Linked DNA regions of Homo sapiens. The protein of the gene in region 1 interacts with the protein of each later gene in a pairwise test. Each region holds a gene or a part of one and is shown in the gene's direction. Other genes may lie near its edges. The genes, in order: CTSC and PPDPF.

Evidence for each region.
Region 2: the proteins of CTSC (region 1) and PPDPF interact in a two-hybrid assay, tested with the Homo sapiens proteins (one study listed by BioGRID).

The regions. Positions count from the first base shown.
Region 1 is NC_000011.10:88,327,141-88,336,678, reverse strand, and holds part of CTSC (dipeptidyl peptidase 1 isoform a preproprotein), read left to right. Parts: intron 1-1,596; coding exon 1,597-1,742; intron 1,743-8,482; coding exon of another isoform or gene 8,483-8,567; intron 8,568-9,538. UniProt on the Homo sapiens protein: Thiol protease. Has dipeptidylpeptidase activity. Active against a broad range of dipeptide substrates composed of both polar and hydrophobic amino acids. Proline cannot occupy the P1 position and arginine cannot occupy the P2 position of the substrate.
Region 2 is NC_000020.11:63,515,343-63,523,726, forward strand, and holds PPDPF (pancreatic progenitor cell differentiation and proliferation factor), read left to right. Parts: upstream 1-5,422; 5' UTR 5,423-5,552; intron 5,553-5,941; 5' UTR 5,942-5,966; coding exon 5,967-6,021; intron 6,022-6,169; coding exon 6,170-6,247; intron 6,248-6,325; coding exon 6,326-6,537; 3' UTR 6,538-6,864; downstream 6,865-8,384. UniProt on the Homo sapiens protein: Probable regulator of exocrine pancreas development.

The DNA.
Region 1 (9,538 bases):
AGAGTCAGTAAAAAATCAGCTATAATTTTCTTGTCAACAGAACAAAGATTAAGTCATTTGTTACTAAAGAAATACCTTTTTAACTGACTGTATAGCATTTCATAATCCTGAACATTGTAACTTTTTTTTTTTTTTTTTTGAGAATGGAGTCTTGCTCTGTCACCCAGGCTGTAGTTCAGTGGCGGGATCTCGGCTCACTGCAACCTCCGCCTCCCGGGTTTAAGCGATTCTCCTGCCTCAGTCTCCCGAGTAGCTAGGATTACGGGCACATGCCACCACGCCCGGCTAATATTTTGTATTTTTAGTAGAGACGGGTTTCACTGTGTTAGCCAGGATGGTCTCCATCTCCTGACCTCGTGATCCGCCCGCCTCGGCCTCCCAAAGTACTGGGATTACAGGCGGGAGTCACCACGCCTGGCCTTTTTTTTTTTTTTTTTTTTAAATTTGAGTTTGAAGGTTGGGGCAGAAAGAGATCAGGATTTGCACTGCCCTGTCACATGCAATCTCCCATGTCAGAGCATTACTCTCAAACATGGAAAAACTTTAAAATACACAACTCTCCAGATGGACACAGCTGAATCATTTTCAGGAAGGCTCTGCCTATAAAATTACCTTTGGCCTTAATTCAGTAATTAAAGGCACCCACAGGTCTGAGCCCTCATCTATGAAGGTTAAACGTATCATTCCTATCAGCACTAATTGGTTTTATAGGATACAGACCTCTAGTTTGCTGAATAAACTTTGGAAGGATTCAGATTATGAGGTTCTAAACTGTAGAGCCTTTGAGGAGAAAGGTACCCCATTTCTTCTCCGAATAGATCATTTTGTGTCTTCTCCTGGGCTTAGCACATTGTCTTCCTTAGGATCTGATAGTCTGTTTATTTATCTTTTTGTTGTCATACCTTTTATTCTTGCATTTCCCACTTTTGACTAGCATTTTGCCTTTTCTCCGTTTCTGGAAGCCTGTAATTTTCAACATTCCCCATTTCTCCTTTTGTTCAGTGGAAAAATTTCTTCAGTGTTGGGATGCTCTGGAAAGGTACTGTAGTTTTGGGGGTCTCCCTGCCTGCTGGGCTGCATAGCATATCTCTCTTTTTTGAGACAAGGTCTCACTGTGTTGCCCAGGTTGGAATGCAGTTGTGCAATCATAGCTCACTGCAGCCTCCAACTCCTGGGCTCAAGCAATCCTTCCACCTCAGCTTCAGCCGCTCAAATAGCTGGGACTACAGGCAATGCACCACCATAACCAGCGAATTTTTAAAAATTATTTTTGTAGAGACAGGGTCTCACTATGTTGCCCAAACTAGTCTTGAAGTTCTGACCTCAGCCCCGCAAAGTGCTAGGATTACAGGCGTGAGCCACTGCTTCTGCTTGCATTATCTCAAATTTTTAGAGCCTAACTTCACAGTCTTGCCTCGGAGCAGGAACTGTTTGAGGCAACAAGATGGAGCCTCTGGTTTCTTCACTAGGCAGACTGTGCTCAAACTGGGTAGCATGAAAGGAAAGCAGCACAATTAAAATTGAAATTGGGGGATTCTTTCCCCTATTGAAATCCAAATAATTTTCCTTTATTGTGCTTTTTTTTTTTTTCTTTAGGACCACAAGAAAAAAAAGTAGTGGTGTACCTTCAGAAGCTGGATACAGCATATGATGACCTTGGCAATTCTGGCCATTTCACCATCATTTACAACCAAGGCTTTGAGATTGTGTTGAATGACTACAAGTGGTTTGCCTTTTTTAAGGTTAGTTTTGTTGGAAGTTGGATTTACATTTTCAATGATTTGATATCTGAAACCTCTTCTGATTAGTAGACCCTCAGAATTTTAATTTTAGATTAAGAAGATGACCGGAATTGACACCACTCTTCCCAAGAGTAGTAGTAGTTGGTATAATTTTGCCACTTTATTTAAAATTATGATTTTAGTAGGTTTACAAAATACCAGTGCTACATTTGAATATGTATAAATTATGTTTAAAATTTACATTTTGGTAAGTATGACTAAATTCTTAATTTATTTTCCTTATTACTACCACTTTATTTCTAAATGTTGCCATAGTCATTTGGCTTTGTTCTAAATCTGTAGGAAAGATAGAGAGATTACACATTTTGTTTTCTTGCAGTTACTATGCTGTCCTTCCTATCACTACCTGTTGGCTGAGGTAGTGATAGGCCTAAATGATTCATTATCTTAAATGTACTAAATATGTTGAGTAATTTTTTCTTCTAAACTAACAGAAAGAGAGAACCTAGGAGTTACTCCCTTAGGCTGGTTAAAGTGAAAGGTAGCCAAGTCAACCCAGCTTGTTTCCTTCTCTCATTAGGAAAGAACTATTGTTCATTCTCATAACACACTTTTTCCAATTGCAAACATACTCAGGGTTAAAATAGTTTAGCACAAATTGCAGCCCATTTCATTTGTTCTTCACAAGCTGGAACTTTTCTTGTAAGCTAAATATTAAATGGTTCAAGTAAATTGGATACATAAGCCTGAAACTAGGCGTTTCTCATTATACATAGAGTATAAATTAAGACAGACTTTTTCATGGTGAAAGGTTTACAGCCTTTAAAACATCTGGGAAGAAGTGGGAAAGTAGGGAATAACTCTGTTAAATATGATAAAAGACAAAGCACCAACAAAGGCCTAGTTCTAAACTTGTTATAATTTCTCATGGGAGTTGTGGTTTGTCACAAGGTTATGGCGGTCCAAGCAAGTTTACAATATTTTTTAGAATAATAACTCCCAGAAATATTTTTAAAATAAGGACCTTTCTTTAATATGGAAAAAAAAAAGATGAAATAGAGAGGAAGAGGTTGCCTTTCCTCAACTGGATTTGCTGGTGTGATATGCAGCTGGTGGAAACCAGTTTGTCCATGCTAGCTGTTGATGGCCACCAGTCCACTGAATTAGTGGAAACCCATGCTTAACCAGTTGTTAACTATTTTTAGTATCATTTCCAGATGCTACGCATTTTTTTTGTAAAAAACATACTTACAATAGTATCTATATAAATTTTTAAAATTGTAATGTATATGTGGTATATTTAACCTGAAAATAATCTTTGGTGTATACGTTGATGAGCCTAGGCCTTTGCAGACCTCTTACAGTTACTCTGTCACAGCCCTTCAAAGGTTCTTTGACTTCAGATTAAGAATCAATTGCATGTGGAATGCATGTGCAAAGGAAGAGATATTCAAGGCAATTGTTACCATGTACCATAAACCTTGTACATAATTTTTTGTCATTTTCTTTTCCTCTGTCTCTATCCCTTCTTCTTTGACACACAATAGACACCTAGTCAATTTATTACAAAAAAAATGAATGAATGAAGTGGAATTCAGTTGGGAAATAGGTTAAATAAATTATTTAGGAGATGAGGAATAGGTAAAAAGAGACAAGTACATAGTTTATTCTTTTGACTTAGAAAACTTTTGATTCTTAAATTCTGCAGAATTGGAGAAACTGGTGGGGAAACTTCTAAAATCATTATTTAATTACCAGAGATGTAATAGATATAGACAAAAGCAGTTTTCTTCTTTTATTATTTTTTCATCAGTTAGTTCTTAGCTTAAATAGTAGTCCAAAGCTGGTAGGGACAGAGGGAATTAGCTGGTGGCTGAATGAGGAATTGTATCACTTTTTGTGAATCACGGTGTAAGCACATTTGGTGTTTTGCCATTGCCTAAGAACATTAGTCACATTAGGTCAATAGAAAATCACTTTTTAAAGCCAAATAAAGTTATATGTGTTCCCAACCATGAGTTGGAAAGAATTAATATATATGCTGTTGGAGGGTAGAACCCTGCCTAATCATATGGTTCTGGATGGCATTGATCGAATCCTTATTCTTTCATTAGGAATAACAATAGAAAAAATACTCCTGCCCTACTGATTTCAGGATATGTCTATTTTAAAGTGCCCATTTGACAAAACCATTATCAGGGCCATGTTTTCTTTTTCTGCAGAAAAATCAACCACTCTGGTCAGTAGTTAGGTCTTATGACAAGCACCATAATTTCCTTAGGCAGAGTAGAATATAATAGGATACTTCTTTTTGAAACTTAATATAATCAGGTAGTTCCAGATAAACATAGCTTGCAAAGTGATAAAATACCATGTTATTTTAGTAAATCCAATTGCAAGAGTGATGGGAAACAGAGTTTAAAAACTTAAGAAAGATATTAAGATGGAGTTGACTTTGAATAATAAAGTCATCCACTGTTGATGGGTGACATTTATTAATACAGAAAGTTTACAGATTTTACCATAAGCATCAGGGTATTTCCTGCAGCTGGGGAAACCGTGCTTGAAAGGATGCGTAACTCAAGGAAAACACAAGCCCATGTAATAAGTATTGCATGTGAGAATTGTTCCTATAGAATTAGAAAGCATCTTTTACATTAAAATTTATTTTTGTAAAAAGAGAAAACATCAAAACTTGAGTAGTATTTGCTATTCAAAGAGTCTTACATAAACGAAAACATACTCAACCTACTGCCATTACAGAAATATTTGACAAATTCTTGCCATGCTTACCTGCCATCGTTGTTGTTATCCTACAAATCAATTGGATTTTCACGCCTCTCCACTGACTGGAACCCTACAACTTGCTTCCTTTTATCCTCTTTATATATGCTTCAGATATGCTTGAAGTAGATTGTTTCTTATTGTTCTTGCTGCTCGAGTTTGTTGAGTAGTTGGTACATGCAGAGTATTTGTATGTTATGACATATATAGGTTTTGTCCATGGTTCCTGGCTCATAACTCACTCCCAAGACCCTTGTTACAGAAACCAGAATCTCTCTCTCTGATCTTCTCCTACCCTCCTTTCATCTGCCCACTGCAGAACTCTAATCTGATTATGGTTTCTAAGACCCTCATACCAGAGAGTATTCTGCCCCATACCATAGCAGAAGGAACACTGCACAGAGACACCAAGAAGAATCTGAACAGACAGGCCTTGTTAGGTTTAGATCATGTCCTTATAACCTAATTATATTTTAACATGGTTATCCATGCTTTAATCATGTGTATTCAATGAACGCTCCATAAAAGCCCAAGAAGAACAGATTTGAGGGAATTCTGAAGCGCTAAACATGTAGGGTCTGACAGGAAGGTGAAGAAGAACTCATCATGCTGGAAGGGTGGTCCACCCTAACTCCGCAGGGACAGAAGCTCCTGTGTCTGGGACCCTTCCAGAACTTGCTCTATGTATCTCTTCAAGTGCCTGTGTATTTATATCCTTTCAAATATCCTTTGTAATAAATCATAAACATGTTTCCCTGAGTTTTTATGCCACTCTGTCAAATTAATTGAACCCAAAGAGGGGGTTATGGGAACCCCAATTTGAAGCCAGTCCATCAGAAGTTCTGGAGGCCTGGACTTGAGACTGGTGTCTAAAGTGGGCAGGCAGTCTTGGGGACTAAGCCCTCAACCTACGGGATCTGAAACTGTCTCCTGGTAGGTAGCATTGGAGTTGTACTGGAGGGCACTGAGCTGGTGTCTGCTGCAGAATTGATTGCTTGCTTGCTGGTGGGGAGAACTTCCTACATATTTTGGGGTCACCGAAGTCTTTTGTATTGATTGTTGTTGCTGACTGAGAATAGGAAAAAGCACGTTGAGTAGTTTTTCCACACCACAGCATTCTTTTAGGCTCCTGCTTTTACCTTCTGCTTCCCTCAGCATCCTGCATCTCACCAGGAGAGACACAGCTTCTTTGCCATTCTCGGCATTCCACTTCGGAATCAATCAGAATAGCTCCTATTGCTAGAAACTTGCTTTATTAAGTTCTGTTTATTCAGGGCTTATCTGAAAGAGAAACATTTTTTATGATTTGAGATTTCTAAGCCATTTTAAAACTTGGTTTTAACAGCTTGAGAAATTGGGGGTATAGTAGGGATGGAGATACATATATTTGGATGTGACTTCAAGCTAGATAAAAGTTTGGAAGGAATAAAAGTTTGACATCTAAAGTTTTTGCATAGTTTGAGTTGAGCAGGAGGTACTAGGTATGTTTTTAAAATATTTTTTTCAGCCAGGCACGGTGACTCATACCTGTAATCCCAGCACTTTGGGAGGCCGAGACAGGCGATCACCTGAGGTCAGGCGTTCGAGACCAGTCTGGCCAACATGAAGAAACCCCGTCTCTACTAAAAATACAAAAATTAGCTGGGTGCGGTGACACATGCCTGTAATCCCAGCTATTCAGGAGGCTGAGGCAGGAGAATTGCTTGAACCCAGGAGGCAGAGGTTGCAGTGAGCCGAGATCACACCATTGCACTCCAGCCTGGGTGTCTCAAAATAATAATAATAATAAAAAAATGAAAGATTTTTTCTTACTCAGCATCCTCCAGGCATTTTATTATCTGAGCACTTTATGGGAGTTGCATATTACATTTAGGGCCCACTCAGGTGGGTGGGTATCTAAGCATTTGAAATAACCTTATGTAAACTAATAAGGAGTAATCAGGCCTGTGGCAAGATGGAAACAGTCTTAGAGGCATTCAAATTCAAATTTCCTTTAAAACACTGGGCTGGCCAAAACAAAAGACAATACTATCTACAGGCCAGTTTCTAAGATTATCAGATTTTAGTAGCATTTACCATTTCATTGTACTTGGCACACTTTAGCAAATTTGCACTTCTTAAAAGTACCTGCAGGCAATCTCCTATATAAAAACACAATGCAGGCTAGCTTGGCTCCTGCCTTTAATTCCAGCACTTTGAGAAGTTGGAGACTAGCGTGGCCAACGTGGTGAAACCTCATCTCCACTAAAAATACAAAAATTAGCCAGGCATAGCAGCGCACGCCTGTAGTCCCAGTTACTTGGGAGGCCGAGGCAGTAGAATCACTTGAACGCTGGAGACAGAGCATGGAGTGAGCTGAGATTGCACCACTGCACTCCATCCTGGGTGACAGCGTGAGACTCTGTCTCCAAACAAAACAAAACACACACACACACAATGTAACAACACGAAACAGAATACTGTGAAAATGCTTAATTATGTCTGACTTTACATGATGGCTGGATATGTGATTATTTTTTCTTCTTTATGCTCTTATGTACTTTGTTCATTTTTAATGATGATCATGTATAAAGCTCCTCTGTGTAGCATTCTCTCCACCAAATTGCCCAGAGACAGGAAGTCCTGTAAAACAAACTAAGCTCCAAAAAATGACCTCCTGTTGAATAGGCTTTTTTTTTTTTTTTTTTTTTTTTTTTTGAAATGGAGTCTAGCTCTGTCTCCCAGGCCCTCGCTCCTTCCACCTCCTGGGTTTAAGAGATTGTCCTTCCTCAGCCTCCAGAGTAGATTGGATTACAGGTGCCCGCCATCACGCCCAGCTAATTTTTGTATTTTTAGTAGAGATGGGGTTTCACCATGTTGACCAGACTGGTCTTGAACTCCTGACCCCAAGTGATCCGCCCGCCTGGACCTCCCCAAGTGCTGGGATTACAGGTGTGAGCCACCACGCCCAGCCTGAATAGGCTTTCTAACCTACTGTTTCTCATTTTACTTTCTCTGAGGCAGTAAAAGAAACTGACTCTAAAAGGGAGCAGTAGAGAAGGAACTCAGATTTTATTTTGAAGATTAAGCTACTCAAGGGCTGAGGAAATATGTAGAGGGGAAGTAGACTCATTATGGCTGGAAATTTTATTTGGTGATAGTGAAGCAAATCTTAGGGCTTTCTAATTGAGCTCTTGTTTGAAAGGCTCCAATCTTAATAGAACTATAAGCTAAAAAAAATGACCATCAGTGTTTCTAAAGCAAGTTGCTACTCAAAACAAGAACACTTTGGGAGGCTGGGGCTGGTGGATCACCTGAGGTCAGAAGATGGAGTCCAGCCTCAACATGGTGAAACCCCTCTATACTAAAAATACAAAAAGTAGCCGGGTGTGGTGGTGCACGCCTATAGTCTCAGCCACCTGGGAGGCTGGGGCAGAAGAATCGCTTGAACCCGGGAGGTGGAGGTTGCAGTGAGCTGACATTGTGCCACTGCATTTCAGCCTGGGTGACAGAGTGAGACTCTGTCTCAAAAACAAAACAAACAGAAACAAGAACTCTATGTTGAGAAATCCATACTAGAGGGTTTAATTTCTCACTTTGTGTGCTAGTGATTAATAAATTTCAAGCTTATCACACAGCCAGAAATGTCGCCTGTGTTTCTACAATAAAAGATTTGGGAATATTGTGACATTTTTTCACTGAGCCTTCTGGGTTCATTATTAAGATATAACAATTTTAGAAGACTTATTGAGATAGGTATACTTTTTAAAATTTGGATTCAATATATCAAGCTCAGCATTTTGTCTTTTTTTTGTTTTGTTTTAAACAACTTTGGGTTTACTTGTAAGAGTATTTCAGTGGAGGAAAAGTATCAGAAGTTTAGCACTGAGTGCCTGCCTAACTATTTTATGTCTTCTTTCATGATGATGCTTAATCTCAACATAATGACTCAGTTTACCATTGTAAACTCTTTGTAGGATGTCACTGATTTTATCAGTCATTTGTTCATGCAGCTGGGAACTGTGGGGATATATGATTTGCCACATCTGAGGAACAAACTGGGTGAGCTCCATTGAAAAATTTCTAACTTTCTTATTAAAAGCAAGCTTCCTCACTTCCTGATGGCTTATGCAAATTAATGCCTATTTATTCATCAGAGGGTGACTGGAGAGATTATGGTTTTCTTATGAATTTCTTGCTTGAGCCTGCTTGTCTGCTGTTTCTAAGTTGTCTGCACTATTTTATGTGAGTAATTTTCTACTTTATTATGTTCTGTTTTCACATGTCAAATCAGCTCTCCCAAGAATGCTACTTGTAACCTAAGTAGACGTGAACCGAAAAGGGTAAAGACCCAGCTAAAAAAAAGGTTGACTCAAGTTCAGTTCACATTCGTAAAGTAGTTAGGCTGCCTTAGGTTGCTTATTCTTTTCTTGAAAAGAATCCCTCAAGAGAGAAACATGTGAGGCCACAGCAGCTTAGATCTGTCTTCCACAGAGAAGGTGGCTTTTACAGAGAAATTGACATACTCATCACTTATCTGACATGACCCAGCTTTGTAAAACTGGCTTCTATTAAAATAGTCTTAATAGACTATTCACTGAGGAGGAGAGAATCTTATTCACTCTTTACATTCTCTTCACATTTTCAGAATAGATGTTTAAATCATTGCTCACACTGGATCCATAAATGTCTAAAATGTTGATGAAGAAATAGGTGATTAGAGAGTAAAATTAATAGAGACTTACCCTTCCTTGCATTTTAACATAATATTCTTTCCCCTTTTCCTTCCTCTGTTACTTGGCTCTTAAATACCAGAAGTGAGATATGAAAAAGGGAACTGGGAACAAGTATTGAAAGCACCATAGGTTTATCTTATATTAGCATTTTCCAAACTTTATAATGAACCAGCAGTGACCCACACATCTGCCAGGTAGGAATTGCTCATCAGTTGTGTCGCGTTATCTTGTTAAGCTTCAGCAATGTTCCATACAGCCACTAATAACAGATCAAAGTGAGCATTAGGGTTGAAATTA
Region 2 (8,384 bases), on another chromosome or scaffold:
TTCATTTTCAATCTGTATGCCTGTACTTTGCTTCTCTTGTATTTTACTGACTAAGACTTCCAATAGATGGCTTTTTTGTTGTTGTTATTGTTTTTGTTTTTTGAGACAGGGTCTCACTGTGTCACCCAGGCTGGAGTGCAGTGGCATGATCTCGGCTCACTGCAACCTCCACCTCCTGGGTTCAAGCAATCCTGCCTAAGTCTCCTGAGTAGCTGGGACTACTGGCACGCACCACCACACCTAGCATGTTTTTTGTTTGTTTGTTTGTTTTTTAGTACAGATGGGGTTTCACCACCTTGGCCAGGCGGGTCTTGAACTCATGACTTCCAGTGATCCACCCGCCTTGGCCTCCCAAAGTGCTGGGATTACAGTTGTGAGCCACCGCGCCCGGCCGGTAAATGTTGATAATAGGAGTAGGAGTGGATGCGCTCGTCCTGCTCTCAGTCCTGGGAAAAGGATTCTCTCACCTCAGTACAGCACTGGCTGTAAATACTTCATCAGAGCTCTTTCTTAGATTGAAGTTGTTTTCTGTTCCTGCTTTGCCGAGATGTTCACCGTGAACGCACACTAAATGTTGTCCAATGCTCGCTCACTGTCCATCGCTTGATGTAAGGGGCTTACAACTGCAGGTTGGTGCATTTTTACAAATCCCAGCACCTGTGCCATCTCAGTGTTAGCATTTGCTGACTGTTTTTTTCCATTTATTTGTTTTTTCGGGGTTTTTTTGAGATGGAGTTCACTCTTGTTGCCCAGGCTGGAGTGCAATGGCGCAATCTCAGCTCACTGCAACCTCCACCTCCAGGTTTCAAGCAATTCTCCCGCCTCAGCCTCCTGAGTAGTTGGGATTACAGGCATGCACCACCACGCCTGGCTAATTTTGTATTATTATTATTATTTTTTTTGGAGATGGAGTCTTGCTCTGTCGCCCAGGCTGGAATGGTGTGATCTCAGCTCACTGCAACCTCCACCTCCCAGGTTCAAGAGATTCTCCTGCCTCAGCCTCCCAAGTAGCTGGGATTACAGGTGCCCGACACCATGCCCGGCTAATTTTTGTATTTTTAGTAGAGATGGGATTTTGCCATATTGGTCAGGCTGGTCTCAAACTCCTGACTTCAGGTGATCTGCCTGCCTCAGCCTCCCAAAGTGCTGGGATTACAGGCATGAGCCACCATGCCCAGCAACTGAGATTTTCCTGGTTCACTTATGCCAAGTAATTTTGGATTTTATCCTAAAGTGTAGGGTTTTATTCTTTTTTTTTTTTTTTTTTTTGAGGCGGAGTCTCGCTCTGTCACCCAGGCTGGAGTGCAGTGGCGCGATCTTGGCTCACCGCAAGCTCCACCTCCTGGGTTCACACCATTCTCCTGCCTCAGCCTCCCAGGTAGCTGGGACTACAGGCGCCCGCCACCACGCCCGGCTAATTTTTTTGTAATTTTTTAGTGGAGATGGGTTTTCACCATGTTAGCCAGGATGGTCTCGATCTCCTGACCTCGTGATCCGCCCACCTCGGCCTCTCAAAGTGCTGGGATTACAGGCGTGAGCCACCGTGCCCGGCCTCGTTTTCCATTTAAGTTGAGATTTTCCTGGTTCAGTTATGCCAAGTAATTTTGGATTTTATCCTAAGTCCAGGGTTTTATTCTTTTTAGAGATGGGGTCTCTCTCTGTCACCCAGGCTGGAGAGCAGGTGCCATCGTAATTCACTGCAGCTTCCAGCTCCTGGGCTCCAGTGACCCTCCTGCCTCAGCTTCCTGAGTGGCTGGGACCACAGCGCGTGGCTCTTTGATGAATAAACACTCCTTGGTTTGCTGTTTGCCTTTGGTTAAATTCCAAAGCACTGACATGGTTGTTTCTGACTTTTGTTTAGATTTACAGGTACATTTTGGAGAGAGGGTTTGTTGACCTCCTCACCCCTCCACTCTGGAAATCTTTAATATATTTTATTATGCAATTCAACCTTCCATCCAATATACATACTGGACGCCTGCCTCCTGCATGGCTGGCTCTGCCTCAGCCACTGGGACCCAGGGTGAACAGATACACCACCTTCTCCCACAGTGCTTGTGTAACCACCAAGCCAATGTCCTGAGTTACTTCCAACAGTGAAAGGTACAGGGATTAATAAGGAACTTTCGCTGAGCACCTGCCCCGTGCCAGATACTGGTCCAAGCACCTGCAGGAAGCATCTTACCCTCAAGGTGGCCACAGGAGTTAGCTATGCCCGTCTCACGCGCAGGGACACTGAGGAACAGGCAGCCTTGGCTGCTGCCCCCCGGACTTCACCTGCCACATCAGGTGCCGCCGGCATAGCAGGCCTTCATCAAATATTAGTCAGCACTTCTGTTTTCTTCTGCAGGTGGTGACACCATCTAAGAGGCACTGGCCAGAGAGCTGGGCAGCAGCTGCCACCTGGGATGAAGATGGGCAGAGCTGGGCCACCAGGGCCGTGGTGTGAACACACCACTCTCCCTCCAGGGGCCGACCAACGAGCTCCGGGGGTCCAACCCTGGCTCCGGCTTTGGCAGAACTCTCACCTCGCCCCCAGACACCTGTGGGAGGAGCACAGTGCAGGTGGCGACAGCTCCCAGGGGCCGAGCAAGGCTGTGAGCCTCCGCACTAGGGGCCTCTCCCATCTAGTCCTCCCCACACGCTGGGGTTAACGCATTCTTAACATATGTATGTTAACCCAACCATAACAAGGTGCCACCATCGTCCCGTCCACAAGGGAGGAGACAGTGGCTACAGGGTGGCAGGCAGCCCTTACAAGTGGGACTGGAAGCCTTTCCCTCCCGCCCTGTGGGAAGCCTGTGGCCGTCCCCGCCCTCGTCCAGCTGTGCCCTGTCCTCTCCAGCTGACCGTCCCCGTCAATCTCATCCCTGCCAATGATCACATCCTAGCAGCAACCGGGCCTGAACCGGCCTGCTATAGCTTGCGCACAATGCATCTTCCGTCCGCTTAGCTTTTCTGCCCCCATTTCCTACAGCCGGGGAGGCTCGGGTGCAGTGTCTCTCCTCGCTCCTGCTTCCTGACCCAGAGCCCAGACCTGGGACTTCCCAAAAGCCCCCAGACACACCAAGGGCACCGCCGAACCCCTCAGAGCCAAGGGAGAGGAGAGCTAGCGTTCCCTGAGCTCACCTTGCCTGGTGGCACGGGTCCCCTCTGTCTGCGGCCACTGTCATGGGAGAAGCCAGGCTCAGCCACTGGCAAGAGCAGGCAGCCAGCAAGAGGTGGATGTGGGTCCAAGCCCAGGCCACACGGCTCCCAGCAAGAGCCATGGCCAGGGGCCAGTCGGCAGCCCCTCTGCCCGACAAGGATGTGGGCCAGCGTCGTCTGCACTTCAGAGGAGACGAGAACCAGGAGGCGGCCCCCGAGGGCATCCCGCGGGTCCTCACGGAGGCTGCGTTCTCCCACCTTGGCCAGGATGCCCCGGGAACACCATGCAGCGTCTCTGAGGCTTCCTGTGCAGAGGGGCTCACAGAGCCCCCACCGGCCTGGTTTAGTAAATGCAGTTTTTACCTTTTCACTTTAAAGGAAAATGAAAATTCCTCCTTTCAGACGCTCTGTGACTGATGTTGACCGGTGTTGACTGGTGAGGTTGAGAATGAGGTGAGCTGGGTCAGGCCAGCCTAGAGGGAAGCGGGTGACCTGGAAGGCCGTGCTGTCAGGCGTGGTCGGCAGTCGGCCCCACGGCTCCTTCAGGGTGGGCCTGGACCACAGACACCTCACCAGGGTCTCCCGTCCCTGGGCGGCTGCATATGGGTCCAAGCAAGCCACAAAGGCTGTGCCAGCCAAGCCCAACGCAGGCCGCCCCTACAGTCCCTGCCCGGCCCTGCACCCTCCCCACCCCTTCCCAGGTGCTGATCACCAGTACTCACTCTGCACCCCAAACCCCAAACCCCGTCTCAGCGTCTGCCCCTGAGGACCCTCTGAGTGTCAACCCAACTGACCCGTCTGCCTCATCAGTGACCCCTCGGGGCTGCACACCTCTCCCATCGCAGGTCCTGGCACTGCTCTCCGGCACCGAGCTCCCCCTCCCAGGTGGGGCTCAGGCGGTTCCCTGCCCTCCGTCCTTAGACCTCAGCTGAAACCTGAGCTCTCCCCACCACCCGCCCCCGCCAGCCTCTGCACTGCTCCCCACGGGAAGGCCGTTCTCCCTTGGTTTACCGTTCCCTGCGCTTGGCTCGGCCATGTGCACATAGTAGGTGCTTACCACACTCGTGCAATGAACACACAGAGCGGTGCAGGGCCCAGGACAGCGCCTTCCCCACGTGCTCAGGGGGCACAAGGGCGTCCCTCCAAGTCTTGCTCAGGGGCCTCCCAGGGTCCCTGCCCAGCTGTGGGTCCTCACTGAGCACCCGGCGAGGACAGAGTACGGCATCCGTTGGCCTCGATCTCCGGAACAACACGGGCACACGGCCGTCCCAGCCAGCAACGAGAGCCACGAAACAAATCCACCCGGGCTGACTCCCGAAGCCCTCGGACTGTTCCGCCCCACGGACCTCCCGGACCCTCTCTTCCACGGGGAAGACACCGCCCAGCCAGGACCGGGTGTATAAAGAAACGGGATTTCCGTAGGGGCAGGCCGATTTCCCCTGCGGGGCCGAGGGAGGTGTGGGGAGGATTCTGCGCTGGGGGGAGGAGGAGAGGGAGGACGCCTTTCTGCCTGGGAAGGGAAAACGCGCCCCCTCCTGATTGGCATGGCGGGCCGTCCCCCGGGCCCCAGGGCCCTGCCGGGAACGCTCTGGGCTCCCCAAACATGGGGTCTCCGAGCAGTGGGGCCCAGCCTCTGCCTCCGGCGACTGGAGACTCACCTCACCCGCCCAAATCCGCCCCGCTCTCCGACTGGGCCCCGCCTCCCACTGCCCCGCCATCCGCCCACCCTTTCACCGCCCCCTGCGGGCAGCAGGCGCGTCCTGGGGCTGGGCAACCGGGGTGCAGGTTCCGGAGCTGCCAGAGCTGTGAGGGGGACTCGGGAGAGATCCAGGTTCCTCTGGCTGCGAAGTCCCTGGAGGCCGGGCCGGAGGGCTCCGCGCACGTAGCACTTTTTGGCCCGCCCGGCGCCCCCGTCGCCTCCACAAGGGCTGAAGAGGACGGGCGGGCTGGACCAGGCGGGGCTCCGAGACGCGTCCGAGACGGGGGCCTGGGCCCGGGAGAGGGGCGGGGGCTGGGCTCCCGGACCCGGGCGCGGGGCCTTTTAACCCCTGCAGACCCAGGACCGGCCGGGCCGCCCCAAGACGAACGCCGCAGGGCTGGGCTCAGCCCAAGCCAGACGGCGAGAGTCGCACCGAGGTGGAAGCTGGGGGCGCGGCCTCGCCGGGGCCAGGAAAGGGGCGGGGCCGGGTGGGGCCCGGGGAGGAGCCTGTGCGCCCCGCCCTCCGTGACGCGCCGCGGCCCCCGCGCATATAAGTGGGCGCGTCCGCGCGTGCGCACCCCGCGCGCGCCTCTCTGTCGTGGCGCGGCTTCCCGCGGTCTTCTCTGCAAATGGGCTCCGTGGCCTAGCGCCCCCGTCCCCGCCACCCGTGATCGTGCGCCGAGGCCCGCGAGGGGTCGCCGCCCAGGTGAGGGGCGCCGCGCGCGGGTGGGACGAGCAGGCCCGAGGGGCGGGGGGCGAGGGGCGGGGCTGGGCCGGGGGCTCCTCTCCTCTCCGCCTGGCGAGCGCTGGGCTCGGGGTCCCCGGCGGGCTCCTCTCGGGTCGGGCGGGTTGGGACGGCGCCCACCAGGTTCCCGACGTCTGGGCCGGGGCCCCGCGCACAAAGCGCCTTTGTTCCACCCGCTCGGCCGGTTTGGGCTGGTTGGAGCCGCCCGCGCCCCGCGCGGCGAAGGCGGTGCCGGGAGCTGGGGAGCCCCGCCTCGGTAAATAACCCAGCGCGGCGGCTCCACCCGCTGGGGAGCGCCCTTCATGACGGAAGGCCGCTGACCCGAGGGGCTCCTCCACCCCCATGCGCAGATCCCACCAGCCAGCAAGCTAAAGCATGGCGGCCATCCCCTCCAGCGGCTCGCTCGTGGCCACCCACGACTACTACCGGCGTGAGTAGCCCCTGCCCCCCATCCACGCGGATGCTCTGCTGGCGCCAGTGCCGGCCCCGTGCAGGCTGCGGAACCAGCGCTCGGCCTGAAGGCCGGTGGGCTGGGGGGCTCCGCGCCCCGCGTTGCTGACGGGACCTCTCCTCTCCAGGCCGCCTGGGTTCCACTTCCAGCAACAGCTCCTGCAGCAGTACCGAGTGCCCCGGGGAAGCCATTCCCCACCCCCCAGGTGAGTGCAGGATCGCCCCTTTCTCCCCCCGCTCCTCCAGGAGCTGGCAGCATCAAGACCCCACTTCGCTTCTCTCAGGTCTCCCCAAGGCTGACCCGGGTCATTGGTGGGCCAGCTTCTTTTTCGGGAAGTCCACCCTCCCGTTCATGGCCACGGTGTTGGAGTCCGCAGAGCACTCGGAACCTCCCCAGGCCTCCAGCAGCATGACCGCCTGTGGCCTGGCTCGGGACGCCCCGAGGAAGCAGCCCGGCGGTCAGTCCAGCACAGCCAGCGCTGGGCCCCCGTCCTGACCTGAGCGGTTACCACCAGCCCCAGGCCTGCGGAGGCGCTAGTCCACCAGAGCCCCTCCCCGCCCCTCTCCCCACTCCGCATCCCTCGCCCCCCTCCCCACCTCCCACCCCCCACCCTGTAAACTAGGCGGCTGCAGCAAGCAGACCTTCGCATCAACACAGCAGACACCAAAAACCAGTGAGAGCCCCGCTCTCTACCGCCCGGCCCCAGCACTCGCTAGCTTTCCTGACACCTGGAACTGTGCACCTGGCACCAAGCGGAAAATAAACTCCAAGCAGCCAGTAGCCCCGATGGTGTGTGCCTGAGCTGTGTGGCCCGAGGTTCCATTTGAGTGTGAGAAATGGCTGAATCCCTCCCGACCTCACTGCCTTGTGGGGGCTGGCCCTGCTCCCAGGCCTTTCTGGGCCTCCTCACGCTGTGAGGCTGTTGCTGGGGCTGATAAGGGTGGGGTTCACTGCTGCTTCTGGAGAGCCTTGGACAGCAGGCAGTCCTGGAGCTGGACAAGCAGGACCCAGGGCAGCCACTGAGGTGGGCCCCCGTGCCACCTTTAGCGGGGGGAAAGGGAGCAGGGAGGGCTGGTCCTCTGAGGGATTCAGGCCCCTTACCCGAGGGCCTGCGGGGCGGGGAGTAGCCTCTGGCTGTGAGCTGGGAAGCCCTCACTCTGGAGGGACCTGGTTCCTGCTGGTAGGTGTCTCCCAAGGGCCTCCCATAGGGGTGTTGCCCCAAGACAGGCTGAGGGGTAGGGGCTGCAGGCACCGTGGAGGGGTCTTCCTGCCACAGGCAGCCCAGCTTAAAGTGAGGGTGGCTGCATCATTCTGGCCTGGTATAGGCATGGAGTGTTGGAGTCCGGGAGTGCTGCAGGCTGGCAGGGATGGGGGTCCACACACAGGAGTGCATGGGCTGTGAGCTTAGTAGACTCCTTCATAACCAAGGTGGGTGGTGTCCCCACACCTCTGCCAGGAGCCTACAGGGATTGACTCAGTTCTGTTGAGAGGCAGCTTAGTGAGCAGGTGGGAGTCAGTGAGATAGCTGGAGACTTGATGTGTGGCCAGGGACATGGTGAGAGGAGGGGCCTCCGTGGGGTGGGAAAGGGTGGGGTTCAGTGGTGGGGGAGGGACTCTGGGGAGGGGTGGGGATCAGTGGGTGCTCCCTGCCTGGTACCCTGTTCCACTGCACTATAAATAGCTGTACTAGTTGGTGGGAAGCTGGTGGGAAGGCATCTGGCTTGTGGCCTCTGATGGCTGAGCCTTTGTCCTGTCCACAGGGTGGAGGCAGCCTCACCCAGCCATCCAAGCCGGTGGTCAGTGCTGAGGCTGGGTGGGGGAGCCTCCGATGGACCCAGGAGTGGGAGGCTGCTCCTAATGGCAGTTGAGCCCCCTGCAGCCTTTTGCAGTGTCCAGATGAAGCCCACAGAGACCCTCCTCCATGTACACACAGCTGTGAGGGTAGCAGGAGTTGGTGTTGAAGGGAGAGCCCAGCCACGCTCAGGTCCCCACCACACATGGCCTGGGGGGGCTCCGCCCTTGGCTGAGCTGGAGGGCTTGGGGTCAGGACCAAGGGTGGGTCCACCCTGCTTGGAAAGAAGCTGTCCTGGCTTTTGGAGTCAGCGGGGGAGGGGCACTGCCCGGGAGCTGGTGTCTTGTTGGAAGGGGCAGCTGGGAGTAGGGAGCAGCCGAGCCACAGGCTGCCCGCGGCATCGTCCCCTGCCTCGGGTCAGGGGGCCCCTTGACTGGAGGACCTCACAACCCTGGGGGTGTCCATGGCCTGTTCCTGGGAGCTGCACCCTCATCAGATTCTCTGTAGGGGGAGAAGTCATATCTTTTCCTCACCCATCACAAGCTTCATG